Regions from separate parts of the Homo sapiens genome. Here all the other regions are linked to region 3. The links come from fine-mapping of genetic effects on gene expression. A gene starts in region 3. Each other region holds a variant in brackets. All regions are shown on one strand. Distances are between the middles of the regions.

The links. PIP is the estimated chance that this variant, and not a neighbour inherited with it, causes the effect.
Region 1: its variant is fine-mapped to the expression of TSHZ3 in whole blood (INTERVAL, PIP 0.97).
Region 2: its variant is fine-mapped to the expression of TSHZ3 in whole blood (TOPMed, PIP above 0.99).
Region 4: its variant is fine-mapped to the expression of TSHZ3 in whole blood (TOPMed, PIP above 0.99).
Region 5: its variant is fine-mapped to the expression of TSHZ3 in whole blood (TOPMed, PIP above 0.99).

What each region holds. Positions count from the first base shown.
Region 1 is chr19:31,091,581-31,097,720 of GRCh38, forward strand. No RefSeq gene overlaps it. Among named protein-coding and RNA genes, the nearest start is that of LINC01791, 73 kb to the right of the region's middle. RefSeq lists enhancers at 4,572-5,584, 4,697-5,196. The variant T/C (reference allele first, on the strand shown) is at 2,825.
Region 2 is chr19:31,325,657-31,331,796 of GRCh38, forward strand. The region is part of intron 1 of TSHZ3 (teashirt zinc finger homeobox 3); the gene reads right to left. TSHZ3-AS1 (TSHZ3 antisense RNA 1) reads left to right here. Exons shown (of 3, transcript XR_002958388.2): 1 at 1-6,140. Among named protein-coding and RNA genes, the nearest start is that of TSHZ3-AS1, 6.9 kb to the left of the region's middle. The variant C/A (reference allele first, on the strand shown) is at 3,268.
Region 3 is chr19:31,346,103-31,352,242 of GRCh38, forward strand. It overlaps TSHZ3 (teashirt zinc finger homeobox 3), which reads right to left and starts at 3,334. Exons shown (of 2, transcript NM_020856.4): 1 at 3,078-3,334. The coding sequence starts at 3,117. TSHZ3-AS1 (TSHZ3 antisense RNA 1) reads left to right here. Exons shown (of 3, transcript XR_002958388.2): 1 at 1-2,815.
Region 4 is chr19:31,013,561-31,019,700 of GRCh38, forward strand. No RefSeq gene overlaps it. Among named protein-coding and RNA genes, the nearest start is that of LINC01834, 110 kb to the left of the region's middle. The variant C/G (reference allele first, on the strand shown) is at 2,463.
Region 5 is chr19:31,314,317-31,320,456 of GRCh38, forward strand. The region is part of intron 1 of TSHZ3 (teashirt zinc finger homeobox 3); the gene reads right to left. Among named protein-coding and RNA genes, the nearest start is that of TSHZ3-AS1, 4.4 kb to the right of the region's middle. RefSeq lists an enhancer at 4,554-5,055. The variant C/A (reference allele first, on the strand shown) is at 2,247.

The sequences.
Region 1 (6,140 bases), 250 kb before region 3:
TTGTGTAATTCCTGTCTGTCCAGGGAGCTGTCTGCAATGGTGGCCTCTGTCTTTCATCTGTGTGTGTTATTTTCACACTGAGTGAAAGTGAAACAAGTTCATTCATTCTTGTCCATGGATCCTTGCAAATCTCCAGCTCTGAAATCCTTTAATTCTAAGTCTTGTTCTTAAGGTGCCCAGGAACCACCAGCACTGGCCAGCCACACAGAAGGCAGTCCCTGCAACCTTGCTTAGTGACGGTGCTGAGCCCTCCACTTACCAGCTCCATTTATGAATGCTAGTATTTAAGGCCTGAGATCTTATTTTCAAATAAATTGCAGCACACCAAACTGAGTTTTGTTTTGGGAATTTGTGAGATTGTCTCAAGACTAGCCCCCTAATGTGGGGCCAAACAGCAAGGACAGAAAAAACATCAGGGTTCCACCGTCTCCCAGTCCCCCCAAAGCCCTGGACTATCTGAATGTGACAAAACTAACTTGTATTCTCAAATGTCCATCCTACACATCCCCAGCCCCTGTCTCACCTGTCAGTCTCTCTCAGTTAGTTTGCAAGGAACACAAAATTGTATATAGAGTCTGAAAGTGAATAGACTATGCCTTCATGGCATGGCCTTATTGGTGAAACCCCAAGGTCAAGAGGCAGGAGAACCCACAGCACCTCTGCAGGCAGGGATGCCTTCCTGAGGCTCAGTTTTGGAGACAGGCAGGCGCTTTATGGGGCCTGTTAGTGGGCACCATATACATCAGATGACTCAGTCCGCTGTGTTCCTCTTGATGCCGCTGAACTGCTTGCAAGACGATTTCTTTGAGCTTCCTTCCTCCCTTCGTCGAGCAGAGGGGGTAAGTCAGGGAACGCTTTTATGTGGCTGCTGCGTTTCCAAATGTTCCTCTATGATTGACAGCTCTGCATTCAGCTTCCCATTATGGCACCTGCAGATAATGAGATATCTTGAAACCGGAATTTCCAGCGCCTGAGCCTGCCAGGAATATTATCATCAGTGTTCTAGAAAGCCATTCCCGCTGCACACATGACCTCTACAAATTTGAAATGTCAAAACACAGCCAGGAGCTGAAACCAAGGCCACTCCAGTCCAAGTGGCTATTGGCTCTTGAATATACAGGAAGGAGTCCTCTATCTTGGGAGAATTATGGATTACCAGAAAATAGTGATCTTTTCATTAACCTATATGTATTTAGAATGTAGATAATGTCTGTCTTTTATCATTCGCATAGCCTGTGTGTGGGGGGACCTGAGAAATGAAGGCCTGGGCATTCCCCAGAGAATCCAGGACTCTTTGGGGGCTAACTCAGGCCATCAAATCTCCTCATCCTCAGTGGCAATCTGGGGCTTAATTTTGTAGACGTTATAGCCACCTAGACCTTGTTGTGTTATCAAAGAGGATAAAGGTAGAGGAAACTCAGTCCTACCTTTGGAATTGGAAGTTTAATCTTCTACTTGTTCATTTTCTTCTGTCTCTTTCACTTGGGCTACAAGCTTAGAGTCCTCAGCACAAGGGGGTTATGGGCTCACCTGTCTACTCAACTGAGCTTCTGGTCTGTGCCATTCACTATGTTGTGTGCTTAATATGAATTAGATATTTTAGGAGCTTGCTATATACAGACGGTGGCACTTGGTGAAGGATTTTGTTATCACCCTCAACAGGGAGAAGCAGAGGGTCAGGTGACTGATGGGGGGTAGAAGGAGGAAAAGGGTATTTGGAGAGCCTGCTCTTGGAGCTGGGCTACAAGGTTGGGTGGGATTTTCTTACAGGCATAAACTGATGAGAGTGAGGGTCATGGATTGACAGGTTTTACATGCAGATGGTTGCTCATGAACAAAGTCCTGTAGGTCTAGAAGTACATGGCACATCTTGGGGGCAGCAAGAGGTTGGGAGGGCCTGGATCACAGAGGGGCTGCACACAATGGGAGACCTGGCTAAAGAGGGCAAACAGGCCCTCCCAACAAAGGCCCGAGAGCCAGCAGGGCTGGGCCATTTCCCCAAAGTCTGAAGACTCGGAGTCTGTAGAAATGGCTCTTACAACCTTTATCTCTTTCTTCCTTTCCATGTTGTTGATAGGCCAGTCTTCCCTCCCTCTCCCCAGTTCTCCATCCACGGCAGAGTTGACCCTATAGCTAGGTTCTAAGGGCAGACACAGAAGCCACATGCGGCCACCTTCAAGAGCTCTTCATCGTTCCATCAGAGCGACTGGTTCAGGATGAACTATGACCCAAATTGGGCCACTGAGAATCAGCCTTGAGATTTTAGCTGGTGTCTTCATGAGCCAGGTCTGCTATTTCCACAGAGATTTCTAGGCAGGCAAAATAGAAGCTTGGCACTGCTGGTGGTCATCTTGCACTGCCTGGAGAAAGATGAGCTATGGATGTGCCAGTGTGGAGGAACGCAGAGCAGAGATGGGAAAGGTGGAGTTCTCCTGGTGTCATTCAGCACCTGACTTCAGCCATTTCTGAAGCCAGCTTCCATCCCTGGATTGTACCCTGGGAGATGATACATTTTTATTTATGTATTACTTGAAACAAGTTTTAGTTGAACTTCTGTCTCTTGAAACCACAAATAATCATAGTATGTGTAACAGCACGCATTGGCATAGCAAGTAGTCCTGTTCTCACCACAATGGCTTTGGGGATAACGCATTGGTACCTGATTGGATATTGAGATGAGGTATTGCACAAACAGTTGAAGGCTATGCATGCACATTTTTCTAGACACTTCACTACTTTTCTACTCACTTGGTCTCTCTCTAAGACCTCAGACCCTGCTGACAGGTGCAAAGACATCCACTCCATTCCCTCAGTGCAGATCTTC[T/C]AGGTGTCCACAAGAGAAGCCCATTAGGACCCCAAAACTCAGAGCTAGCAAAGCAGAAAACTCAGACCAGTTACTCCAAGTGGAGCTACACACTCAGGAGATCTCCGTGGACAGGTTCAGAATCCCACTGAAGACCCGGTCTAGCCCAGGTCAGCATGGGCAGACTCAGGAGTGGGAGCCTGCTCTGGGTGGAAGCCCAAGTGGTCCAGAGGTGTCCCCTGCAGGGGGGCCTCTAGCTAAACTGGGTGGGACCTCTTCCTCCTTCCTCTTGGAGGCTTTGGCTACATGGGGGAGTGAGCAATGGGCCTCCTGCTCCTCCGGGAAGCAGATATGGCTGAGGCCTGCCCTCCTCCAATGGGGCCTGGACAGCAGGCTTTTCTCAGCACATGAAGACAAATTCAGCCCAGAGGGTTTCTCTCCTGGTTAAGCTAAGGATATGAAGTTGGTCAGGGAGGACGAACCACATTCTTAAAAGGCATCCTGAATAAAATGGCTCAATAACCACAGAAGATTGGAAAATCATATTCCAGTGCCTCAGAACCCCCACCACACATGCACACATATATACACAGGCACACATACATATATGCACACACATGCACACATACATACACACATAGGCGCAAACATAGACATATATACACCTATAGACACATGTTCACACATACACACATGCACACACATATATGCATGCATACACATGAACATATAGACACACACATACACATGTAGACATAAACATAGACATACAGACACATATAGACACATATGCATGTACACGTATACAAACACACATGCATACGTGCACAAAGACACAGTGCACACACAGACACATACATAGACACATCTACACATATAGACACACACAAATATACACATAGACACATATACACATAGACAAACACACATATAGACACATATACACACATAGAAACAGACATACACACTGAGACACACATATACACACATACACACATAGACACACATACATTCATAGACACACACTTACACATATAGACACATCTATACACATACAGACACCACAAATATACACATAGACGCTATCCACACATAGACATGTAAACATACACACATAGACACACACAATACAAAGATACACACATACACATACTCACATAAAAACACACATGCATACACAAAGGCACAGAGACACACAGACACACACATAGACACACATACGGACACATACACACAGATACACAAACACACATATACACATGCACACAAACATACACAGAGACACGCACACACACACAGCCACACACAGAAACACATATAGACACAGGCACATAAAACACAAGTACACACAGATACACACTAACACCAATATCACACACACACATACACACACACTACTTTCTAAAGACTCGAAGGAGTCCTATCAGGGAAAATGCACACGACTTGTCTGTCAGGCCAGCTGGCCCTAACAATGGAGGCGTGTGTCCCCACTGAATAATTGACCTTACCCCAGGATCCCCAGAAAGCTTTTTTTTTTTTTTTTTTTTTTGTTTTTCTTTTCCTCCCAATAGCATCTGAGGACAAAGAGACACTTGCAGTAGCGGAACAGGCCTCTCCGGGTAAAATTAGAACTGTCTCTAGAAAGGTGCACGCATGTGCTCCAACATACAGCAAATAATTTATTGTCAGGTGCAATTCCCCTGCTTGAAGATCGGGTGGCTCTCTGGCCATCCACGCCAGACTGGAAAGCAGTGTCCCTAGTCCCCGGATCCTGTCCAGCTGAGCGTAGACGGCAGTAGCCAGGGACTGGCAGCACAGGCTGTGTGACCGGGGCAGGGCTGGGAGAGAAAATGGCCGCCCTGTCGCCAGGTCCTTCTGTGTGTGGCCCTGTCAGGAAGGAGCCGGAGCTCCGGCCGGGGCTGGCTGGCTCCCGCTAAGTACTAACGCCACGGTGGCGGTGGGGGACAGGAGATGAGAGACAGAACAGGGCAGCTGCAAATGGAAATCACCCTAGGGAAGGTTACAACTAGATAAAGTTTTCGACAATAAGATTCCAGAGACTGCTGACGGGAGCAAAGCTCCGTATTTTAGTCTCAGTACAAATTTGCTTCAATCTTATACAACTCCCATGCAGCATTGCCCACAGCTGCATGCTGTAAACAACAAACAAATCTATTTCCATCAGCCCTGCTGATGCCAGGAGAAAAGTGCCTGAGCAGAAGACATGCACAGATGCAAACCCTCACCTGAGCCTGGCGCTGCCCTCCATTTGGCCTCTCTAACTTAATATCGTTGTTACAAAGCTATTGGTCTCCTGGTAGCTAGCTGGCTCAACGCAGTGCCTCTTCTTCCAGCTAATCTGACAACTCCGATCCAAGAAGCATCAAGGGCCCAATTAAGAAGACACATCTTATCAAGGAGCTTATTTTGCATAACAGAATACAAATGACGAATAAAAATTTAATGTTTAATAACTTAGTACAAAGAGGGCTGTTGATATAGAATGCCTGGAATTTTTATGGAGGCTGTCAGACTTGTGATAAAACTGTTATATAGGAACACTTGGCAAAAAACAGCGTAGAATTTTTCAGTAATGGTGTGTGCATGATATTGCATTAATTCTTGATAGGGAACTAACTGTAAGCCAGTTTGAGTTTCAGTGTAAGATGGTGTGTGTGTGTGCGTGCGTGTGTGTGTGTGCATGCGCGTGTGTGTGTCGTGCTCTATCCAGAATGCTCTGAGGGTGTGGCTGGACATGCACCCATGCCTTTATGGAGGAGAATCAAAGTGCATTTTATTGAGGACTTTGCAGAGAAGTTGCTCAGTCCTGCATAAGACATCTGGGTGTGTCTTATCTAGAACAGAAATGGCAGGAAATGAGTGGGGTCACTTTCTGTAGTAACTATCCTGACACCAAGAGTTGGGCAGGATTCTTAAGGGTTGCTTGGGAGCATTGGAAATTCTCCATGACCTCTGTATGAGGGTGAGTGTGTGACACGGAGGAACAGTGTGTGGGAGGGTGCCTCGCTAGTCTCTGGTCTCCGAAATTTGATCCCTGGAAGCAGCTAATAGAGATATGCACAAAAATTCATGCCTGAGCTGGATACTTATCGACTCCGCAGAGCTTTCCTATTGCTTTAGCCATGAGGACATCTTTCAATGATGCTTTCATTCAAATATTTACTGACACCCTAAACTTGGCTCAGCTCTGGAAGGAAAGCCACAGTTCTTCCAGGCCCCTCTAGAAAGCGGGTCTGTGGCCACAGGATTGACTCTTGTCTCTGCCACGCACTACCTGCAAGATACTTGAACAAGTTACCCGACTTCTCCAAACTTC
Region 2 (6,140 bases), 20 kb before region 3:
AGCAATTCCGCCTGTAGGACTGCATCCCACAAGGATGTAAGTGGAAGGACATTACTATACAAAGGCGTGTGCAGAAGGATGTTCACTATGGTACTGTTTGTCAAAGAAAAGACTAGAAGCAACCAGAATGTCCATGCAGAGGGTAACTCATTCACTAGAGTCAAACGTGGCCCTTAAAAAGTATAAGGCAGCTCTGTGCAACAAAATATGGTAGGATATAGCAGCTGAAACCTAACATGATATAAGATGATGACTGAGATACATAGATTTGCCACCATTTTATTATGTACAATGTAATATACACAGCAAAGTTTAAAGAATTTTGCCTGTACACCCATCACCTAGTTTAAAACTTTAACATTCCGCTTTATTTGCTTTATCACATATATACCCATCATTCCATGTATCTTAACTTTTGGATGCATGTCAAAGTAAACTGCAGATATCCAAAGTATATTCTTAGACAAAAACAGGTACAACATGGAGTGTAAAGTGTGGATTTCTCATTTAAAATATTTAAAATATACTTTTAATTTAATGGCAAAACTGCAATTACTTTTGCACCAACATAAATATCTAGAAGACTATACTACAAACTGGTATCGGTGCTTGCCCCTAGGGAGAAGAACTGAGGAGCTGGGGTTAGAAGAAGACTCTCTTTTAACTGCATACCCTTTGATTCTCTTGAATATTGCATTATGGACATCATTTTGTTTAATTTAAAGAATGACAATGCATCCACTTTCATGAGAGAAAGCTACTGTCAAATCTTTCAGGGCTCTAGGTAGCTTCTGTAGAGCAGCCCTGCATGCTTAGAAGCCTGGCGCGTGTGTGTGCATGTGCACACGTGCCTGCGTGTGTCTGTGTGTGCATGAGCACGCGTACACACCCACACCCAGATGCTCGGAGCCTGCACAGTGAGGGTGGTGCTGACCTCCCCTCATCTATCGCTGTAAGTCACTTTCTCATGGGGCTGAAACCTCGGAGTGTGAAGCAACCATCTTCAGGAGGCTCATTATTTAATTTCCAAGTAAGCAGCTGCAAAAGACAGCATGTTTGTTGCTGTTAGGGAGAACGGAGCACATGGAAGACAGGAGGGAAAGGCAGTTCCTCTGCTCAGGGTAGCTCTGCACTGCGAGTGCCCATGTCTCAGTCTCCCTTACTGTAAACATTTGTGCAACTTCAAATAAATATCCTCCCCAAGTCTCACGCAGCCTTCGGCTCTGATGGAAACCCTATGTGTGCCCCAGTGTGCCAGTGTGCACAGGCCAGAGAAGCATGCAAATACAGGGGAGAAGTCCAGCTCCATGTGAGGAACGCCAGAGAAGGCATCCTGGAGAGAAGTGAGCAGTCCAGAATGTAGACTCTCCTTCCTTACAGCACTCAGCCAGGCTACTGAAAGGCAGCAGCTTTCTGTTTCATTAAAAAAAAAACCAGCAGAGGAGTAAAAAGCCCTTAGAAAAAACATAGAATTAAACATGATCATGAGAACAGTACTGTAAGCCAAACCTTCAAAGGAAAAAAGAATATTCCACGGCATTACTGGATGTGTTCGACCAATTCCCTTCTTCCCTGAGACCTGTAGCTCGAGGTTCTAGACTTTGAGCCTCTGGGCTACCGCTGCACATTTTTGAACAGCGATCAATTTCCTTGTGTGTTTTAAACCCTGGGAATCATATTCTACATGTGAGAGATAGTAAAATAGATTTTAAAAATTGAGGTAACTGAATATGTGGAGTTATGTCAACATGTCAGAATAAATACCTGAAATCCTTACTTTTCTACATATGAAAGGGATCTGATATCTAATGAGAGGGAAGGAAAATGCACTTTGTTAGCATTCTGCTTTATTCTTGAAAACATGCATATAAGGCTAGTTTTAAAAATCCCTCTGATAAGAATAAGACTGTGAGAACACTGATTTCCACTAGGTGATACACATATGTACCATACATATACATACATATGTAAGAATACATATATGTACACACAATACACGTATACACGCATATAAATATACAGTGTATATGTAACTGAGCCAGGCAGTATACTTAAAGGCAATAATATGATAGTATGAAGGCAATTTGTATCTTACCACATATTGAAATAAAACACCCTGCACAGCCCCTAAACCTCAAAATCCAATACACAAAATGAAACGAATTGCACTGGGAAAAAAAATAAAGAAATGAGAAAATGAACTACGATATTCTCTTATTTGTTTAGTGTTCTCTTTCTCTAGAGTTTACATGGACATTGTCTCTAGTTGCATCTGCAAACCAATACATCGGCTGTCAGATCACTAAGGCATTTGACAACATCATTCTAGAGCCTTTAGTTACTGAGATATCAATAATTAAATGCATTCAGTTCACACTTTGTTCTTGCAGATACCAGCTATTTATCTCTGTCCTCTGAAGAAGCTAATGGTATAATGGGCAAAACATCAAGAATAATTAAGAAAAACGTTGCTACAAACTCTGTCAGAAGAAATATAACTTTTGCCCAGGCCCCCAGCTAGAATTCATTTATACAAGATCCACCCAAAACCAAGGCACCTTTGCTGAAAAGCGAAGTGCTAGGCTCATGGAGCAGGGAACTCACTCACTCTGTCCACCTGAGGGGAAGACCAGTGGGCACTTCTCTGAGTGTGAGCCTTGAAAAGCCTTGGGTGTGTGCATATAGCATCAGCTATAAAACAGCGGGGACTGCGGGCCACGTTGGCACCTCTCCCACACCAGGGATGGGCTCTGGAAGGCCAGCCCAGGCTGACAAATGGCAGCAGGACTGACTTGCTTCAGTGGACTGGCCCCTGCTGATGGAGCCCAACCTTCCTGCAGGCCATTCACCTCCCAGCTGAGCCATCCATGTTTCAAAGCTTGTTTGCAGCATTAGCTGGTACCAAAACAGAAGTTCTGAGAACATCTTATTCAAGGAATGGCGGGTTAAATCTTAACAGGTCTATTTTTCTTTAGTAGAGAGTGTCTCTCTCCTTTCATATCCAATAACAAATAAGAAGAGAGAAACTGTGAGGTGTTTTCTTCTTTAGGTAAGGGTCAGGCCTAGATGGTATATAAACTCCAAACAGATTATATTTTAAGTTGGTGACAATTAATTACAATACCGTATACATACTGCAGATAACACAATTTAAGATTAAAGAATTATCTGGAGCCATAGTAATGGGAGATGACTTTGAAGAGGCAGCCTTCCAGATAAGCCATGTCACATATCTGCATATCCTTTCAAACATCTTTGTCACCTAAG[C/A]GGGAGTGGCTCCCAATCACTGTTCACCAATCTCACTTGCGGAAGAGTTGGTAGTCAACTTCCTGTACAGGGGCCGTGTGAGCTCCTGGATGTCTACCTTAAACTTCAAAGAGCCACATTTACAGAAAATGAAATGCTCACATTTCATCATTAAATTACACTAGGCTCCCAATCTTCATGCGGCACATGTATTGCACTGAAAACGGATATTTGTTATTAATGACAAAGATATGGAAAATGTGAAGTTGAAATAAGCTACCCAAACTTAAGAGAAAGAAATGTTACAGGAACTGCTTTGTCAACCCTAATTGTGTAATTACTTCTTGGCTTGGTCACCCAAGCTCCGAGCAAGAAATAAGAGACAATGGTAATTTCTTACTACTGAAATGAAGGTGTCACGCTGCCTTGTGCATTCTGTGTAAGCAGGGCTAAAGTTTACATTTATATCACGTTACCTCCATTACAATCATCCAGGCCACTGCAAGAACTTAGTGGTATAAGGTCAGCCCTGGCAATGGGCACGCTCAAGTTTACTTGCACAAACATTTAATTTAGGCAGAGTGGAGGCATCTCTGCTTTTGGTCATCATCTTACCCCTCACCTCACACCGGTGAAATTGGTGAACTGCTACTGGCAACTTGCAGACTCACAGCAATAAAATAGTGTTTTTAAATGGTGCTAATACAGTGGCTACCAATAAAAATGAACCACTAGATGGCTTTAGATTTTTCACTTCTGAATATCGGAAGATGCATTATTTATGGTGTCAAAGCTAAACCTGGGTACAGCACTTGGGAGTGGGGGTGTTTGTGGAGAGAGAGGCAGGAACACCGCCCTGTGTAACTCCATCCCTTTCTCTCTTCACTCCACAGTTCCCCTTATAGCTCGATAATTAATTACAAGGCCGCATAATTCTATCTTCAGTCCCATCAGCGTTGGGTCAACTAAGAGCAAGGATCACATGCCAAAATTGTTGTGTGTTTTTTTTCCACACCAAGTATGAACCACTCCTCATTCTAATGGAAAAAAGAGCGCAGACACACAACTAGGAAGAGAAAAAAATGAAATTCCATTATAACTGGTTTCCTCAAGCTCCAGCCTAGGATATGAGTAATCATAAAAACTGTAATATCAGCTTTTTTGTTTTCCTTAACACTGGGTTCCTACTTTATTTCCTTTCAAAGAGGGTCAAGATCCTTTTTTTTTTTTTAATTCATAAAAGCTGCTGTGTGATAACCAAAAGGTTGGTTTCTCTCTGTAATAGCTCTGCCTTCCGTGATACTTTTAAATTTGGGGGCAAAAATAAAACTCGCTAAACTCTCAACAGCTGCCCTGAGTGAACTTGAAGCCCCTCACCTGCCTGGCCCTCAGGCCTTCTGGAAACATCTAACGCCTAGCAGGGGTGGAGCAGTGAGCTGACCGGCAGGCATGGACCAGGAGCTGCTAGCACAGGCCTCGGGAGGTGGCCTCCGGGCTGCTTGGCCGTACCTTGAGGACTGGCCTGACGGCTCCCAATGCCCGAGCTCCCATGTGAAGTGCAGGGAGGAGCAGGTCAGTGGCCACAGCAGCCTGGCCTGGCCTGGGTCACACCCTCGGTCAGCATCGCCCCAATGTCACTCTCTAGTTCTGTTTTCTCCTCCCTACCCACTCCCACCTTAACCAGCCACAGGGAATGGCGGGGTGCAAAATGGAGGCTGTTGACCTGCTGTGTGATCCACACCTCCCTCTGGGCTCAAAACATCAATGTGCTTTTAACAAGGAGCCAAGTGCTGTTTAATCCTTGGGCGGGGGGAGGAAAGTCCAGAACACCTATGGGTCATGAAGCAGCCCACGCTGAGAAGGCGACCCCAGACCCCAGACGGAGGTGTCAGGAGCTTGTTTTCCCAGCACTTCCTGTTGGCAGGGTCACAGCTCTACCGAGAGAAGGTGGGCCGTACCCCAGGGCACAGGAATCAGCATTGACATGCCCAAAAACTGACATGCATGCTTGTCCCCCACAGGCACGGGCATGTCCCCAGTCACCATGGTGGCAGAAGGACAATGGGAAACGCAGGGCCTGCCAGGCAAATTCTAGCAAAGACGGGCTTCCTAAAATCTCCCTTCTACATGAGAGCTGCCCAACCCAACGGCAGAGTTATGACTCACCGAAAGGGATACCCCCTCCTTCCCTCTAAGGACTGAAGGAGGGAAACGGCGCATGTAACCCTGGCCTAAGAGAGACCCCCGGGCTGAACCAAAGCATCAGAGATTCAGAGGGCACGCGGGGAATGTGGACAGAGCGACACCAGGCCTTCCTGAGCTCACCTGTACCAGAGCCTCAGGAAACATGTCTGTAAAACCGCTCTCATAGTAAGCACTTTATTATCTACTTTTGGCGCAGTGATGAGTTAAAGGGGCATTAATTTTCTTTCATAGCCTGGAATAGCTTATTTATCATTTTTTTTGTCTTTGTCACTGATATTTCAGATCTGCTGCGAATTGCTGTTTTTTTGTTTTGTTCTGTTTTGTTACTGTTGTTTAATTAATCTGCACTCATACAACCACCAAAACAATCACGGTCCTACTGGTACCAGCAGATGTGGCCGAAATGTGCCCTGAAACTTCCCAACTGCAGCTCGACCCTGCTTGCAGTGCTGTGTCATAACGAAGGGAAGTCAACTCAAGATGCATTTTCTGGAAATGCCATGGACGCACAGAGAGAAGAAACTACAAATAGTGTTGCAAGGAAGGAGGCCAGCGGCTGCATTCACTGTGTCACTGCGGCCAAGGTTTCTGGGTACCTTATGTTCACCACCTGCCACCTACTGTGGTGTCAGAGCTGTCTGGTCCAGCCGGGACAGTCAATTGATTTTCACAGAACGTCCATTTTATGT
Region 3 (6,140 bases):
GAAATATGTATTTTCAGGGATTCTTGGAGCCTGCTTCGGCCTTCGGGAAAGCAATGATACATTGGCCTAGATATGAAGACCGTGTGTACCTGTGTGCCACGTCTGCTCGCCCTACCCAGCTCTTGGCCTTTTGTGGTTGTTATTCTACCCTAGACCATTAAAAGGGCCCTAATTCCTATGACATGATTATCCAGGTACCAAAGCCCATTTGTCACCTGCAGCAGAAAATTGAGTTAATGCACAACTAAAGGCAGCCAGGACTGTGTAATATCAACTTGATTACATCAAACTAGCTGCAAACCTAATTCTGCTGGATGACACTGCGTCGAGCTTGTCATCTCCAATCATTAAAGCTGTCAGGAATCCATCAGGTTTACAGCTAATTAGGTGAACACTAATGAAGCTGGCAAAACAACTTTTCTTTTTTTATGGCTGAGCGGACCTTTCAGTTTGGAGGGGAAAAAAATTCTCGAGTATTCTCAAGGTTGCTGGGGACTGGATTTCCAGTTACCAATCAGCAGACATCTTTCTTTTCCCCACTCTCTCTCTCTATCAGTACAAAGCAATCAATTTGTCATCACTCCCAGTATGCCACAAAAGCTGGCATGAACCTTATAACTTGCAGCTGGGAAAACTAAAAAAGAGGAGAAAAAAATGGGAAGTTTCTGGTCCATCCAAACAAACAAACCACCCCCAAAAAAAAAACCTCTGTGCATACTTATCACCAGCCTAAATGTGGAGTTTTTTTTTTTTCTCTCCACTCTTCTTAAATAAGTAGCTCTTCAGTCCGCCTCCACCCCCTCCTCCACATGTCCATTAGGCAGAGGCATTCTGATAAAGTAAATCCAAAACCCGAGTATGGGAAAGAAATAAAGCACTCATGCTGCCAGCTTCTGATTGACCATTAAGCTATTGATGAATGTGCCTGTCAGGAGAGAGACAATTAAATCAAATATGAAACAAAGTCGTTTTGACGGGTCATTTTGATAGAGCAAAACCATTCTTCCATCTCCTATTAGTCCTGCAGTCAAGTTTTTTATATAATGAATTTTTCTTAACTGACCTGAGATTTCCTGGCTGGCTTTCTTTAAAAAAAAAAAAAAAGTGTGAAAAGGTTAGTGAACAGGTTGCTCTAAAAATAAATAAATAAATAAATAAATAAAGCCAACAGCAGGTTCCCTCCTCCTCTGATATTTTTCTGGAGGAAGCTATCAAATACGAGTCTCAGATTGGCAGGGTGCAACCGAAGAGATGAACTAGAGAGAGAGTTCTGAACCAAATGTAAAGATGTAATCACATATGGTTCATTGGATGGAGGCACACACATACCTTAAAATGTGTATCCAAAAAGGAAAGAAAAAAAAAATTTCAAAGACTGGAAGAAGCCCAAGACATTCCTACTACTCAACTTTGTGAAGGATTCCTCCAAAGTTTCAGAGTTTATTTTGGGTAGATAAGCTCATTGCTTGAGCCTGGAATTTAAAGTAGAAGGTGGGACGGGCAAGAAGCAAGCTCCAGGAGGTTAACTAGGGAGGCGGCAAGCTCCCTACAATCACTCCTGGAATTTTCAAACTTTCTAAATTTGGGCAACACCGAGGACAGAGAGCAAAACCTGCATCCTAAGCCCCAAACCAACCCTGTTTTCTTCTGAGATTTTCTGAAGACACTGGCAGGCAAGTACATTTCTGGGAGAAGAGAGAATTATCATTCCTTCTCTGTGACCCCGTGTAAGGGGTCTGGAGTGCAGAGTGCAGCCAACGTGTGAGGTCCCCTGGCAGTGCCGGCTGGCATGATGGAAATTATGGGCACTCAGGGCACCATGGCTACAACGCCTTCCTCCAAGATGGGCACCAGCCAATGCCCTGACCCTACTCTCTGCCCTTCCCTCTTAACATCAAAAGAGAAGTAAAAGAAAGGAAGAGAAAAGAAAAGAAAGGAAGCCCCACTTAACCCTCCCCTTCAGGGAGCATCTGAACCTCTGCACATCTGAGTGTTACTCATATCAAAATACATCACGTCCATATGTGGTCCTCTCGGCAATCCGCCCCAAATCCCAAAGTTGCACTGACAGGGCCCTCCTGACGTCACAGAGCTTGGCCTCACTATTGCAAGTGATTTATTGATGTTTATTGGGAATGAATAGATCAAAGGCAGCAGCATGACGGGCGATCAATCAGTCATCAAATCAAGGATGGCAACGGGCCAGAAACCCTTCTTCCAGGCAACATGCCCCCAACCGACATTATTGCAAAATAATGTTATGTGTGTGGTTTTTGTTTTGTTTTCAATGATGCGTTTTCCAGAAAAGAAAAGAAAAAAATCGGCTCAGTCTTAACAGGAGTTGACACTCCCGGTTAAAGAAGAAGAAAAAAAAAAAAAAAGGAGGAACAAAAAAGTACTCAGACACGTCCCAGAACTAAGTGCTATGCGGAGATGAGGGTGGGAGCAGCAGTACAAGGAGGGGGTGGGGGCGAGGAAACACAAACAGGGGAGAAGGAAACGCCAGCATCTAACATGGACTTGACAGTCATCTGACAATACCCAGACCCTGTGCGCTCCGGGTTCCACCGCTGTGCCCAGTTTGGGCCCAAGAAATGAGGAATCAATCGTGTTAGTACTAAGGTGGCCGAGGGGACCGGCTCGCTCACTCGTTCGCGCTCCCTGGCTCGGCGGACACCAGGCAGTCCCCCGGCGGTCGGCCGCTCGGAGGACGCGGAAGATGTCCCGGGGAACTCAGGTGACCCCGCCCGCCACCCACAGAAAGAGCCAGGCCGGGGTTGCTTCCCATTCCCTCTGCAGCCGGAGAGCTGAGGAGGTAGGGACCTGGCGCGGCTCAGCGCGCTCCGCGAGCGGCTCCCCAAATGGGTGCGAGAGGGAAGAGGGCAGAGCGCGGCGGGGCGTCCGGGGGGCGCCCGGTACCCGAGGCGGGCGCACGCACCCAAACAGGAGAGCGGCGCCCGGAGTTACTCAGTGCGGGCAGAAGAGCGGGGCGAGGAGCGGGGTCGCGCCCGCTGGAGGCGCGGGGCGAGCGGAGGAAGAGGAGGAGGAGAGCAGAAGGAAGGGGAAGCGGCTCGTACCTGCTGCGCGCCGGGGCGCCTGCTGCTTCCTCCTCGGCATGATGCTTCTCCGGCGACTGCCACTGCCGCCGCCGCCGCCGCTGCCGGGCTGAGGACAGGGAGGGAGGGGGCGGCGGGCCCGCGGGGGGGCGAGGCGGGCCTGCTCTCAGCCTCCCCCCCGGAGAGCGGCCGCCCGCAGGATGCTGCTGCGCCCAGGCTCTCCGCGTCCCCCCCGCGCCGCGCTCCGCCGCGAACCCCGAACGTGCGGAGGGAAGAAGGAGGGCGGGCGAGGGAGGCTCGGGGAGGGAGGAGCACGGGGGGGAGGAGGAGGCAGAGGAGGAGGAGGTGGAGGAGGAGGAGGAGGACCGCGCTGCCGGCGGAATGGGAAGTTTGACAAATCGCTCCAGAGGCCAGAGGAGGAGGGGGCGGGGAGGAGCGGCGGCCCTGCCCCCCCCCGCCCCGTCCCCAGACGAGGTGCGCGGGGTTCGGGGCTGGGGGGCGGGGAGAGGGCGGGCAGAGCGGTGGGAGGAGGAGCGCGGGAGCGGCCCGGACCGGTACTGCCCCGGCCCCCGCCCCTAGGCCGGGGGTCACGGCATCCGGGGGGACGCGCAGCCGCCGCCGCGGCCCGGGGCTCGGCGGTCCAGTCTTCTGCCCGTGGCGCGGCTGGAGCGGCGGCGTCGGCAACAGGCAAGCTTAAAGGAAAAGGAGATGATCGTGTCAATCGCCCGCCCGCGGGGGCGCCGCGCCCCCGCCCCCGGCCCCAGGCCCGCGTGGGACCCCCGCCCCGCCAGCGAAAGGGGTGCCGCCCCTCCGCCTCCGCCCCGTGCGCACACGCGGGGGCGCGGCGCCAGCCCCGCCGAGCCCGTCCCGGGGCGCTCGTTACCCCCCACCCCTATTCCCACCCAGCGTTCGTCCCCAGCCACCCCCCAGCTGCCCCACCCGGCTCGCACTCCTCTCCACCCGCCGACTCCGGAGCCCCCAGCGTGGTCCCCGGGCCGGGGCTGGCGTCCCCCGGGGAAGCCAGAGCCCACGGGCAGGCCCCCTCCAGGGAGGAGGCGGGCGCGGGCCGGGGCGGGTGGGGGCAGCCCTCAGACCCCGCGCCACCCAGCTCCTCCCCCAGGACCCGCCGTAGCCACTTCCCCCAATTTTTTTTCCCCGGACAAACTTTCCTGGGCCCGTCCCGGGGGTCGGTGTGGGAGGGGGTTCCTTCAAGTTTCCTCTCCTGACTTTGGGATGATCAGGGTCCCTCCACCCCGCCCCTCGCCCCCGGGAGCCGGGCCGCGCCCCCCATCCACGGCGCGGGCCGATCCTAGGGCGGGACGGGGGCGGGAGAAGGAAACCGGGCTCCCCTGCCCATCCCCCGCCAGGGGCTCCCCCCGAGAGCCTAGGGGGCCGCCGCGCCGTGTCCCGCGCCCGGCCTGCCGGGGCTGCTGGACTAGAGGGATTGATTATTGATTGGTGATCGGGGTCGCTGAGGCTCCGGGCCGGCCCGGCCGACTGGCCGCGGCAAGAAGGAGCTGGCTGGGCGGCGTGGGCGGCGGGGCGACGCGGGCTCACTTACGGGCGGCGGTGAGGGCGCGGGTGGGCCGGAGCTCATGCGGGCGACCCCCGGGCGGCGGCGGCTGAGCGGGAGCCGGAGCCCGAGCGGCGCGGGCGGCGGCGCATCGATGCGCTGCGGGCTCGATTGCGTCTCCCTGGGCCAGCTCTCAGGCCGGGAATGGGGCGGCCGCGCCGGGGCCGGCTCCGGGCGCTGCCGGGCGGCGGCTGCTGGAGCGCGGGGGCGGCCTCCGGGCCCACTATCCCCGAGGCGGCCCTGCGCCCGGGCGCGCCGGCTGGGGCTCTGGCGCTCTCGCAGGCCCCGAGGCCGACAGTCCCGGCGAGGGCGGGCGCCCCGCGCTCCAGCACCGGCTGCCTGAGCGCTCCTGGAGCAGCAAACCCCAGACTTCTTCCTCCTTCTCTCCTTCCTTCCTTCCCCCTCCCCTTATCTTTTTCTTTTTTTAGTCTCTTTCTCCCTCTTTTTCTGCCCTGTGTCCTTTTTATTTTTTCTCTACGACTGTTTTTGCAAGTTTGTTTCAAAAGTTCACAGCATGCTTTCTTTTCTTTTAGACCGGGAGACAGTGATCTCACCCACACGGTAAGATCAAAAGTCTCCGCTCGCCCAGCCTGCGGGCTTGGGCTGGGTCCAGACGTCTCCCAGGATGCAGATGCGCCGCCGCTGGCCTCCCCGGCTATAAAGCCGCCTCCAGCGCCTTTCCGCGCGCAGGAGCGCTCGGAGTTGTGGGGTACGGACCCCAGGCGGGGCAGGGAGTCCGAGGCGGGCTGCGGCGGGGCTCTCGGGCTGGCGGACTCGGGGGCTGAGGCGCCGTGCGCGTTGGGTGCCCGCGGCCGCAGAGGCCAGAACCGCTACTCCTCCAGGCCGGGGAGACGCGGCCGTGGAGCGTGAAACGCTTCTTGCAAGCGAGGAAACGGTGAGTTGGCCGACACCGCCGGCGGCCTCACCATTCTGGTGGCCGCGCTGAGCTCCTGTCGCCTGGAGGCGGGTTGCGCCGCACGGGGTCAGCTCCCGCCGGCTCCCAGCTCACCTTCGAAGCTCCCACTTAGGCGCGCCCGGTGCGGCGTGTGCACAGCGCGGGGCGCCGCACACGGAAGCGTGTAGTTCTCCCTGGTCGCGCTTTTCTCCTCCTTTCCATCCCCTCGCTGTTCTTGCAAACCTCTGTTCCTTCGGCCCCCTCCCACTGCGGGCCGCGGCCTGAACTCGGGTCTCCGCGTAGCCGGCCGCCGCCGCTGGGTCGCTGCCTGGCCCTCCCCCGCTCAGGCGCCGAGCGCTGTGCGATCCGCCCTAACATCTGTCCGTCCAACCATTGGCGCATCCATCAGTGTCAATGGGCTGCACATTGCAGCGACAGCCCGCCACGCACAACACGGGCTATGCGGAGTGCACGCAGCAACCATACTGCCATGTCGGGACACGCAAAAAGGCCCCCGGCCTGGCTTGGCACAGCCTGAAGGCCTAATCTGTGTTCTTTCAGCCACATGTACCCACCCCCACTTAATATCTGGACCCCCAAACATGAATAGTTTTGC
Region 4 (6,140 bases), 330 kb before region 3:
AAGGCCCCCGCCCAGGCCCACTGAGGAGGGTCCAACCCCGGGTGCCCCGGACCCATCCTGGGGTCATTGGAATGCCCTCTGCAGATCACTACTTCCTGTTTGCCTTTCCATGAGGCAGTGAACACTGCTGTGAAAAAGGTTCAAAGTGTTTCCTGACACACAAAGCCTCTAAAAGGCAATATTTTGATGATTTAAGTATAAATGATCAGAAACATGTGGATTTCATTTCCTTTAGAATACACTTGGGTATGAAAATTAACAGGAAACGTGCTTGGCAAAATACAACCTGGGTTTCCTCAAAGCCCTGAAGTGGTTTAAGATGTTCAGTGGATTTGAAGGGAAGGTAGCCTTCTCTCTGTACCTTCCCACCAGGCTTGCACTCGCCCACACATTAAATCTGGGCAGGATTTGCTACTGGTGTGGCCTTGACCTTGTTGAGAAAGGCAGGGAGGAAGAGAAACAGGAGAAAGAGGAGGGAGAGTCTGGGTAAGAAGTAGGCAGCTTTTCCTAACTGGTGCTGCCTTCCCAAGAGGGGGACCTGACCTCTTTCCTTGGAAACAGCCCTCAACAAGTCCCTACTGGGTCCTACCTGTCCTCAGGTGTCCAGCCATGCTTTGGCCCCCTCTGTCCCTTTCCCTGAGAAAAACCACTTGGAGTTACAGAAAGACATGGCACACTCCACAGAGAGGCTTCTTTCCATCTTTACCCGTGTTAAGATAAGGTTCATTCCATGATAGAGGTAGGCAGCTTCAGAGCTCCCAGAAGTCCCAGAGCACAAGGCAGTGAAAGATCCTGGTAGAGCAAGAGGAGATGGAGAAGGAGAACCTGAGGGCAGGAGAATGCTCTGGAGGGAGAGAGGAGAGAGGAGGAAAGGGAAGAATAAACGGAGTCAGAAAGGAAGGTAAGAGAGGGATAGGGAGACTAGAGAGGGAGAAAAGAAGGGAGGAAGGGTCGGGGGAGGGAAGAAGGGAGGAAGAGAAGAAAGAAGAGAAAAAAGAGGTGAGAGGGAAGGAGGAAGGGAGGGAGAGAAGGAGGGGAGACGGGAGAAAGGAAGAGCAGAAGGGAGGAATGAGGGAAGGCAGGCGTGAGGGAGAAAGGAAAGGAAGGAGAGGGAAGGAGAAAAGAAGGAAGGAAGAAAAAAAGGAGGGAGGGAGAGAAGAAGGGAGGGAGGAAAGGAGGGAGAGAGAAATGGGGGGAAAAGAAGAAAAGATTGGAGGGAAGGAGGAAGAGAGGAAGACAAGAAGGGATGGGAAAAGGGAGGGAGGGAGGAAGATAAAAAGAAAGGGAAAAGGGGAAAAAGGGAGAGGGAGAAAAGAAGGGAAAAAGGAGATATAGAAAAGAGAGGGAGGAAGAGAAGAATGGAGAGAGGAAGGAAGAATGGAGAGAGGAAGGAAGAAAGGAGAGAGAGGAGGGAAGGAGTAGAGCAGAATAGAGGGAAGAAGGATAGCAGGAGGGAGGGAGGAAGGAAGAAAAGAAAAGATGTGGGGAGAGAGACAGAGAGGAAGGAAGGAAAAGTGTGTGATGGCCGGTGGGAAGGGTAGACAAAGGATAGACACAGAGATAGGCAGTGGATTCCTGGTTAGGATTTCTGGCTCTCAAGTAATGTGCTTGTCAGCAAGAATGTCCAGAAATGCCCCTTTAACTGGGCGTACTGCAAAAAGTGTGAGAAGCATTCTGGGAGTGGGTGGGTTTCACGAACTGGGGTAGTCTTCCTCACTCTGCTTTTTTGTTTTAATCATCAGTCAGCAGAAATGTCTCCAGAGGCCTTGCTGCTTGCCCTGATTAATGAACTTCAGATCTTTCTGTGCCCTGGGGTTCTGCCCATCATGAGCACTGGGCGGGATCCTAACACCATCACTCCTGGGACCAGTTTTCATAAGTGGGCCTGCTAGGCATCTGCAGGCAGGGCTTGGCCACCTCCCAGGAGCCAGGCCCTGCTATGAGGTAGCCTGAGGACAGGACAGAGGACTGGACCACAAAGGCAGGGCTTTCCCTCCTGGGGACACACCCAGGACAGGAACACTTTTCCTGGTGGAACTGTGTGGGCAGAAGGGGCAACATGACCAGGGGGCAACTGGACCAGAAAGACAGGGCCAACAGGACCAGAAAGGCAGGGCTTACCCTCCTAAGGACACAGCCAGGACAGAAACACTTTTCCTGGTGGAGCTGTGTGGGCAGAAGGGGCAACATGATACCCTCAGTAATATGCCTGCCTGGGTCAAGATACAAGTGACTTGGTTTGGGGTTCCCCTAAAACAGAGCGCAAGATAAGGCTTTGAGGGCAAGGAGTTTATGTAGGGGGTGACCACAGGAAGCACAGAGAGGGTGGGGAGAAGTGAGACAGAGAAGGAAGAAAAGCCAATAAGGTCTTGTTAGTGAGGAAGTTACTGCAGTGGGCAACTGGGGCCCAACAGCACGGGTGTTCCTCTGGCAGACGCTATGAAGAATGCGCCTCAGATGGT[C/G]CCACAGAAAGATAAGGAGCTGAATGTGCATCCACCACATCCTGTCCCCTGCTGGTCAGGTGGCTCCTGTGGCTGTCACCTCCCTCACTCTCTGGTCCTCTCCCCAGCATGCTCCCTAGGCCAATGTAGTAAGTTATGAGCTTAAATGGGAACTATCTTCAAGCTGCTTCTAGAGTATGCTCAGTAGATCTTGGATCCCTTGGATAGGAATCTTGGCAGGGTCCCTATACCAGTCCCACCCTTGAGGAAAACATCGATACTTTGCCCAGATGAACAGGCTGAAAGCTGGTGAGTGAAGGGTGCCAAGTAGCAGAGGCCCATAATTGCACCTGTCCTGGCAAGAGATGAGCAATGAACAGTTTATCAAGCATCGCCCAGCATGCACCAAGCACTTATGGGCCCAGCACCCATTCAAGGGACTTTTGCTCCCTGGACTCCAGCCTCTTCTGCCCAAGGCAAGAGAGAAAGAACTGGAAAAATACCTTTGCTCTGGGCTTTGCATGGCCTGGATCAGGTTCACAGCTAATTAGAAGTAAATGTGAAGCACAATTATGTATGAACCTTCGGTGGCCAAATTCATGAAAGGAATAACGGGTATATGTTTCCTTTCTGTAGAATTTTAACAAACAAGTGGCATTGTCATCCATTATTTATCTTTTTTCAATTGCAGTGAATTGTTGCAGTGACAAATATCCAATTTCTGTATTTACAGAAAACTCACACATGTGTAGATCATGGTACAGTTTCATATTTACTGTATAAAGTACTGACTTGTTTTTTTAAATAGAGAAATTTGGTAATTATTGCTCTATTTCTTAAGATGTGAAAGATGATGCATAATAAATTGATAGGCCATTTCTTTTGTGCTCCCGTAAAAAAAATAGCCAGCCAGCTTCTCCTTGGAAATCGTGGCTCTTTATATTTGGGGAAACTTAACCTCTAGCAGGATGAGACACCTGGAGAGAACACACTCTAGGCACACAGCAGATGAGCAACAAATATATGTTTATAAAATTTGTTGGTTGACAGAGTCACGGAGAACTGGTATTGTTTTTAAATACCCCAGGCAGGGTTGAAGACACACCTTGAAATATACACTGCAGTCTTGGGCCCTTAGCATTGGATGACCACACAGTCATCACTTGTTCACATCTTCAACTTGGTTACAGTTTTGTGTAGGATTGTGAGAAAAAGGAGCTTGCAGGACTGAAGGTAAAAACCTGCACAGCATCGTAAGACAATCCTCCAAGCTGACTGAGCAACCATGGCTCTCTTACCCAGGCTTCTTGGCCTGGGAGAAATGAAGTGTATTAGTCCATTCTCACACTGCTAATACAGACATACCTGGGACTGGTTAATTTATAAAGGAAAGAGATTTAACTGACACCCAGTTCCAAAGGGCTGGGGAGGCCTCAGGAAATTTGCAATCATGGCAGAAGTGGAAGCAAACACATCCTTCTTCACATGGTGGCAGCAAGGAGAAGTGCCGAGCAAAAGGTGGAAAATCCACTTATAAAACCATCAGATCTTGTGAGAACTCACTAACTATCAGGAGAACAGAAAGATAGGGGTAACCACCCCCATGATTCAATTACTTACCACTGGGTCCCTTGCACAATATATGGGGATTATGGGAACTACAATTCAAGATGAGATTTGGGTGGGGACACAGCCAAACCATATCTGTACCTCCAATGTCGCTTCATTCATTCATCTGTTCTAATGGAATCTACTACAAAAGTCAGACGTGTTGATTGCTGAGGAGGCACAGCATTACACATGGCCTTGTTCTCCAGAGACTCAGGGCTTGGAGATCAAACATAGCCATGGACGGAAGCTAACAGTGGAACGTGTTCAGGATGATGGCAGAGTCTGAACCAATTGTACGTAGCAGGTGAGCAAAGGAAGGAGGGGCCATAAGGACCTTCAAGCTCTTGCCCATGAGCTGGCCTCTCTTCTTCTCTTATGTGATGTGTACTGACTAAGTGTGGCTCAGTGTAAGAGAAACAAGTAGATGTCAAAGTAACTTGTGTTAAAATGATTCCATCTATTTCAGGAGTCCAGTTGTCATTTCTAAGCCCTTGTTTACAGATGCTTTCTCTTGAGTCCAGTAACATGTGAATACTATATTCTGTGAGTTCTTGCTTTTAACCCCACTTCTCCTGAGTTCCCTACATTTGTAAAAAAGAAAAAAAAAAAGAAAAAAAAATCAAACTAATTAGATAACTGAACCACATGTACCTTCCCTACCCTGAAAAGAAAATTGAGCCTTCTGAACTTGTCATCCCTACTACCTCATCCCATACTCTCATTTTCTTCTTTACATTCTAGCAACAAATTTTCATATACGTACACAAAAACAAAACAAAACACAATAACAAACAAAAAATAATAATAAGAGTAAGAGAGAGTGCTTGAAGGGGCACCAGCTAGACCAAGTGTGTGGGCCTCCAATTTCTCAGAGTCTGGCTTGAACTACTTACAGAACAGAGGTCCTTGGGGATCACACTTGGGTCTGCCTGTGACTATAGAGCTCCCCAGGATATGAGCCCCGGACCAAAAACAGCCTTTTATATGAACCCATGGGCTCCACCATGAACCTGGTCCTAAAAATTAGCCTCTTGATTTTTTCTTTATTATTATCATTTTTTTTTTTTTTTTTACTGAGCAGCTGCTATCAATGACTTCTCAAGTTTTGCTTTCTGGTAACTACCATTCCAAAGCACTCTAAAAACCAATTTTACACTTAATAAATTTTAACTATTCAATATTTTTCATTTTAAAACTAAATAACAGACATTTAAAAGAGTATTTCTTTTTTAATGACACTCATGCCACTATTTTAGAAAGTCAGGTGACATTCACCATGCATTCCTATCTCCTTAACTGCCAAATACTCTATTAGTCAAGTTTGTTCATATTTACAAGATTTTTTTTTTGGATGTTTTACTGCTATCAGAAGATCTAACATCTGTTTCTCCAGGGATTCTCCATGTGTTCTGTAGTTTACAACAATTGAAACCACTGTTTTCGAAATACATTTGGATTAAACTCAATGTACTAAGACTCAATTTCACAGGGAGCCCCATGCACGCGTCTGGGGTTTTCTCTCATGTAATTTTTCCGAATGGTGAGACATTTGCTCTGGATTTAGGTGGGTGAGATAGAATAACAGTGGAGTTCAATGGAGTGCATGTGTAAAATAACGCTGTTAAAGGCCCAAGTGTGGGGAGGGTTTCTGGGAGTCCCTGTTTCTGCCTGGAGCACAACAGAAGAAAGAAAGCTCCTTTGACTTTGCTCTTTTGGGAACCACAGTGGCAGGGGCAAGTCCAGCACATCGCCTTGTGTCCTTCCCTGGCCATCAACAACACCGTCCATAGACCTTTCTGTGGTGATGGGAATGTTCTACATCTACACTTCCCAATATAGTGTTGCCACTGGTCTCTGGCAGCAATTTAGTGTTGAAATATGGCCAGTGAGACTGAGCAGCTGAGATTTTTATTTTATTTAATATTTTAAATTTAAATTTGAATTCTAATATCCATGCACGACTAGTGGCTATCTGTATTAGTTCTTTCTTGTGCTGCTAATAAAGAAATACCTGAGCCTGGGTAATTTATAAAAGAAAGAAGTTTAACTGACTTACAGTTCAGCATGGCTGGGGAAGCCTCAGGAAAC
Region 5 (6,140 bases), 32 kb before region 3:
GAGCGGGCGGCAGGGAGGCATGGTCGGCCATCACTGCAATCCTGAGAAGCCACATGGGCAGCGGCCGGAACCGTGTCTCACCTGCACGGTGGGGCTCTGCCTGCACCCCTGCTTCTGCACAAGTCCATCCCAGCTATCTGGCTGCTCACCTCCTTCTGCCCAACCTTCTCAGGGCCGGGTTTCTGATGCATTGTGAATCATTTCTAATGACAGGATTTCACATCCCCTTGTGATACTACATTCTTGTGCATAACTTGTAATTTGAGTGATTGTGAATTGTTCCGAGTGCCAGATTCGTATTTTGCAATAGATCAGGGTTTTATTCATATGTGAGTGCATAATTTTGCCTCAAGATGCGTTAGATTACATTAATTAACTTTGTAGCCAGAATGGGAGAAATTAACCGTTTGGATGAACCTTGCTCTGTAATCACCGTCATTCTCAGACCCCTTGAGTGTCCACCTCCGGGGCTGTCTGGAAGAGCAGGCAGTGAAATAAAAAGAAGGGGAAGGAATTTGGGGGCACAGCTCCAGGGGAAGGCTCAGCTCATGGCCCCTGGGAGAAGCCAGGCTCCTGAGACACTGGAGGTGCTTACCTCTATGAGAAAGGACGACGGGTCCTATATCCCTCTGTGTGTTTCTTCTAAACTCTACAGATGCGTGCTGGACAGATAGAGAGCATGGGATGTAATCCCAAGCAGGGAATCCTGCCACCAGGGGTTGCTGCACTGGACACTTCTGTCCTGGGCACAGATCAAGGGAAGAAAGCAACTCTGCCAAGAGATGTCTATCACCTATGCTCTCCCCGAGCGGCCAGCAGAAATGTATGAGCTACCTGGAACAGATGCTGAAAGGCGCATTATTTGGAATATGACCAATCCAACTTTCCTTTCATGATATTTATTTTTTGTTTCTTTTTCTTTTCTCTTTCCCCTTCTCCTTCGAGGCTCACATCAGCCATCCAATTTACTGACAGTATTGACCTCTTATAGAGGAGATTCCCCCAGCCCCGCCCTGTCCCAAAGCGTCCCCGGTCTGTTCATCACTTGGGACTGATAAGTCCATTTCTCCTCCAAAGGGTGGAGCTTGGCTGGGGGTACTCAGGAAGCTCTACTCCTGGGGGCGGGGTGCTGGATACTGCCAGGTGGCAGGACACATCATATCAGAGCCAGGCCAGGCCGCAGCAGTGGGGCCCCTCCTGCCCTCTGCCAGGGAGCTGGGTGTGTGCGCCCTAGACTTCCCTCACTCGCCACCCAGCTTGGATGGGCAAAGCACTAAAAGGTAAATATGAGAAATACAATTGGAATTATGATAAACAGAAATAAAAAGGGGCTAAAATCAGAAAGGTTTTGTGAAAAGAAAAACGGCTGGCAATAAAGCTGAAAACAGCAGTGCTCCGAGGCAATTTAGACTGCAAAACACAAACCATTAAGTTTGTGCATTATCTTTTAATTTAATCTTGAATGATTTATAATCCATCACGCAAGGCTTCAACCATATCCAATTATTCTCTGCTGCTTGATTGACAAGAAAGGTGATTTATTAAGCTAATAAAAAGTGATGTGAGCTGAGCTCATATAAAAAATAACCAGCCGGACAAAGACTTTAAAGAGACATCGACCATTTTTTTTTCCCACAGAGAAGGGTTTAGTCACTTTTACCCATTCAGCACTAATCAAGTAGCAACTTGGGAGAGAGTGGCAAGGTGTAATAATTACTGCTATATAAAACTAGACTTGCACTTCGGGTGGGTGTGTAAGGAGAAGGAAATAAATATTAAAACAGATAGAAGAAGTCTGACGCCCCTAAGAGAGTCCAAAATGCAGGAGGATCTCAAAGTCTTCAGTGATGAAAGCAGCACCAACACCAGCAGCTTTGTTTTCAGGGAGGGAGGCAGGAGTTCCCTGCTACTTAAAATGCCTTTCCCATTTTCCAGGGGGAAATCTGCCTAAATCTCCCAAAGCCTGTTTGTGAGAACTCCATTGTGTTTTCTGCAGCAGTAACACTGGAATGCTTGTATGCATGAATTAAAGGGGAAGACGGCACCTCTAAAGTCATCTCCTGTAATTGTTTACCTAATGCTGCTCGGAGACTCTGGGGAAAAGGCAGGTTTGCAAGATGAAGTGGTGTGTACGAGGCCTCTCCTCATACACAACAGGATGCCACTTTAATGTCCAAGATGCTGGCGTGTTTCAGTGAGCACAGCACTTCAGGACTAATGATGCAATCAAGCCTCTTGCAATCAAA[C/A]AGCCTGGGCTGGGGAAATAGTGCTATTTGCGGCAGCCGCTGTGTCGTGTACTAAAATTTTCTGGAACAGAGAGGAAATAAGAAAGTAAAAAAGCAAAATTCTAAATTTTCATGGGGGAGAGGAGGGGCTGTTAGGGAAGGAAATGTTCAAGTGTCTGCTTTCCACCTCATGGAAAAGTGGGAAAAGCAGAGAGGGAAAGAATGGGGAGAGAGAGAGAGAAGGAGAAACAGGCAGAGAGAGACAGAAGCCAACCCCCGCCCCACCTCAGCTCACTGTACGCTGTGTCACTGAACAGTCTTTCTAGTCGTTTTCCCGTTTTATTTCTCAATTATTTGAGTCACATATGCTCCGGCCAAATATTCTCTGCTTGCTTTTATTTTCTACTGCAACCCATATTACCTACAGTATATTAAGCAATCTATAAGGGCCTGGCACCTTCTATCAATTTGAAGAAGATGATGCCAATGATTTGCAGAGGAATTACAACAAAGAAAGGACCACGGGAGTTGAAATTTAGTCGCAGGAGACTTTTTTCCAGGGACAAAATTCTCTTCTCCAGGATTTTTTTCATCCGTCAACAAAATCCAACGGGTTTTTCTTTTTACCAGCCTCCCTCCCCTCCAGCTCTCTGGGCATGCCCCCAGCCCCAGCCCCAGCCAGAGCCACAGCTGCCTAGGAGGGAAGCATTAAAACGCTGATATGCTGTAGTTTAATGCCCCAGCCATCTCTGGGCAGCTGTTCCAGCCGAGCCATGCCAGGGCCAGGGTGTGACCCACTGCAGCCACATCGGGACGATGGGGATGCTGAACAGTGCAGGCTCTTGATGGGGCAAGATGCAAAGAGCTGGGGGACCCTGGCTGCACCATACAACCCAGGACCTGCCAGGGATTCAGAAGCTCCCTGTGATGTCTCCTGGTCCTTATGTCCTCACCCCAAATTTACTGCCACACTGACCCTACTGGCCAAGCACAGCAAGGATCACAGAAGGCCTAAGGAACTCCCTGCTCAGACTCAAGACAAAGGAAGGAAACAGGCTGTGTAATTAAGGTGCACCAAGCCAGGTGTGAGGAGAACAGCAGGGTCTGGAGAGCAGGGCGCATCCCCAGACTGGCTGCAGCTGTCCCAAACGCCTGCCCCGCTGCTCCCAAGAAGGGGCGGCTTGTCATCATGCTTGGCTTTCATTAACTTTCCTTCCGGAAATCTGACCCGGACATCCGGGGTGGAAAGCATACAGAATCAAACTTCATTTATAAACTTTTCCCTCTGCATCTCTTTCACGCCTGGGTCCCAGGTGACCACGGAGCTCCTCCAGGCACCTCCCACCCCTGGTAAAAGGGCCCAGCCGTATTGACTCATTTGTGTGTGAACATTCGGCTGCAGGACTGTAAAAGCTCCCTTTACCAAAATCAATTCAAAGATTCAAAACAATCTATTGAAGAGTTTTGCAGCTAGCTTTTAAACCACTTATAAAAGACAACACACAGGAAAAATTAACCCCTGTGGCTCTATTAGGAACAGTATAATAAATATACATTTAAAAGATCTATAAACACATATTTATCTGCAAAATGTTCTTGCATAAAACTGTTATTGAAAAGGCTTTCATTTTATCTTTGTGTTATTGTAATTTTATTGAATTGCTTATTCATTCTTTGATATTGTATTTTAATGGTATTATAAATCTGTTTTATGTCTGATAGGAGCCTCATTGTAAACTGATATAACAGATAATATGGCAATTCACCATAAAAATTCTAAACCAAAAATGCAGATCGGAACGCAAAGAAGCACTTTAATTCATTCTCGGTTTCTTTTCATTTTATTTTTTAATTATTTTTCATGTGCTGGTTGCCATCTGTTGATAAAGGATGGTTGTGTGAAACTCACTGTACAACACAATAGGAACTTTTTTGTATAATTCTATTCATAAAAAATGATAACAGTATAAAAGCATTACACTTCTCTAGACTGAGGATCATTAGCAAGTTCATTGTATAAACTGATTTAAATTAGTCACTTCTGGAACAAAATCCTTTTTTTGTAAAATATCTTATTTTGGGTAATTTTTAGTATCATGAATAAAAGAACAAAAAAAACCACTTTCTAAAATGTCTCCTATTATTTTTATCCTTTTATTAAAAACAATGAAAAACAATTATGATAAAAGATGGTATCAACATGTATAGCAATTATGTCATAAGCCCAACTATGGCTCAGAAACTTCGCAGGAAGTTCATTCAATAAAAGTATCTTAACTTGCCATCTCTAAATGATGAGATTTCCATTATCAGGAACAAACGATCCGGTCACCAATACTGTGGCAAACACCTAGTCCCAAGAGCAGGGCTTTATAGCAGCTCTGGTGCCTCCTCATGGGCTCCTCCCATGGCCCAGACAATCCTACCACCCTGGTGCCATGGCTAAAAGCAGCTCATTAATCTCAGCTCTGTCTGATCAAGGATCCTCTGAGCCGGAGACCAGGGACCTGAGAAGTTGCTTTTCCTGGGTGAGTACATCTGAATATAAAAAGCAGGCGTCAAAACTGTCTCCTGTTAAAAGCCACCTAGTTCATTCCCCTATAGAGAAAAACAACAGGACTTAAGGAAAGTGTGGATCCCCACCTCACAACTTAGCAACACTGCAGAAACAAGCAGGCTATGAATAGCACCTGCCAAGACGGCTGGCTCAGCTGCAGATAAAAAGAAGAACGTTGTCAACACAAAAGCCTTCTATTACAAAATAGAGAAAAGTAGGTTTTCCTTCTTTAAGAATTTTGCACATAAATCATTGTTTCCAATAAACATTGTAAAGGTTTCATCAGTAATTTTTTTTAAAAAAAGCTACTCATATATATGAAGATCACTTGGTGAGACACAAACAATTAAGCCACACTGAAGAAGTGAAAATGGCTGAAACCCTAAGGTGAGCATATCCAGGTCTGCACAGCAAAACCCAGCCACAACCTGGGCTTCTCCCCTGAGCCCCAGCCCACCACTGAGGGAGACTGATGTCTCTGCAGGACTGAGAGGCAGGCCCTGAGGAAACCCGGGCTCACCCACCATGAGCTCATAGCCCCTCAAAGCATCACCAGGCAGAAAGTTTCTACTAGAACACTGAAGAGGGACAAATAACCACCATGACAACGGTAATCACAAAGAAAACAACAGTGTAACACCTTTTGTCGCCCTCAAAAGCACAAACATCACTGAAACAAGTTTTCTTTCTACTTAAGCTGCTTTGAAAAAAAAAGGCTGCTACTAGGGGCAGGAAGGCAGGCTTCATTAGCTGAATGACATATATGGACTCTTAAGATGCAGCCCCCCTGAGAAAGTAGCAATCGGCCCTTCCTTCCTAATTCTTTCCAACACACACGCAGTTGATAGAAGTGATGGAGAGTTTCTTGCCAAATCATCCTAAACTAGGACGTAACCGCTACAGCCTGGCTCAAAAACCAGAGCTTAGAGCTGCAGATGACCTGACGTATTAGGGAGCTCACACCCTGAAACATTTTCTCGGGTTACATCTGATCTATACAGAAACAGATGAAATATACATGTAGGTTCTTAAGTATAATAACCAAACAAATGCCTGTGAACAAGGACCCAACTTGAGAATGACAACATGACCACGGGGCTTCTCCACCGCTCAGGCAGGCGGTGGGTAAATATGACCCTGGACATGAATGCGTGACCCCCAAGCAATACTAGGCTCGTGTTTGCTTCTGTGCTTTGTAGAAAAGACGGATCCTGGACGTAGTCCTTTTTGACTTGCTTTATCTACCCATATAATATCACTAAGATCCATCCCTGCTGTTGCCCGTGGCTGCCGTTCCTTCATTTTTACTGCTCTAAAATATTCCATTGTGTGAATGTTATTTATTTAACCTTAAAGAA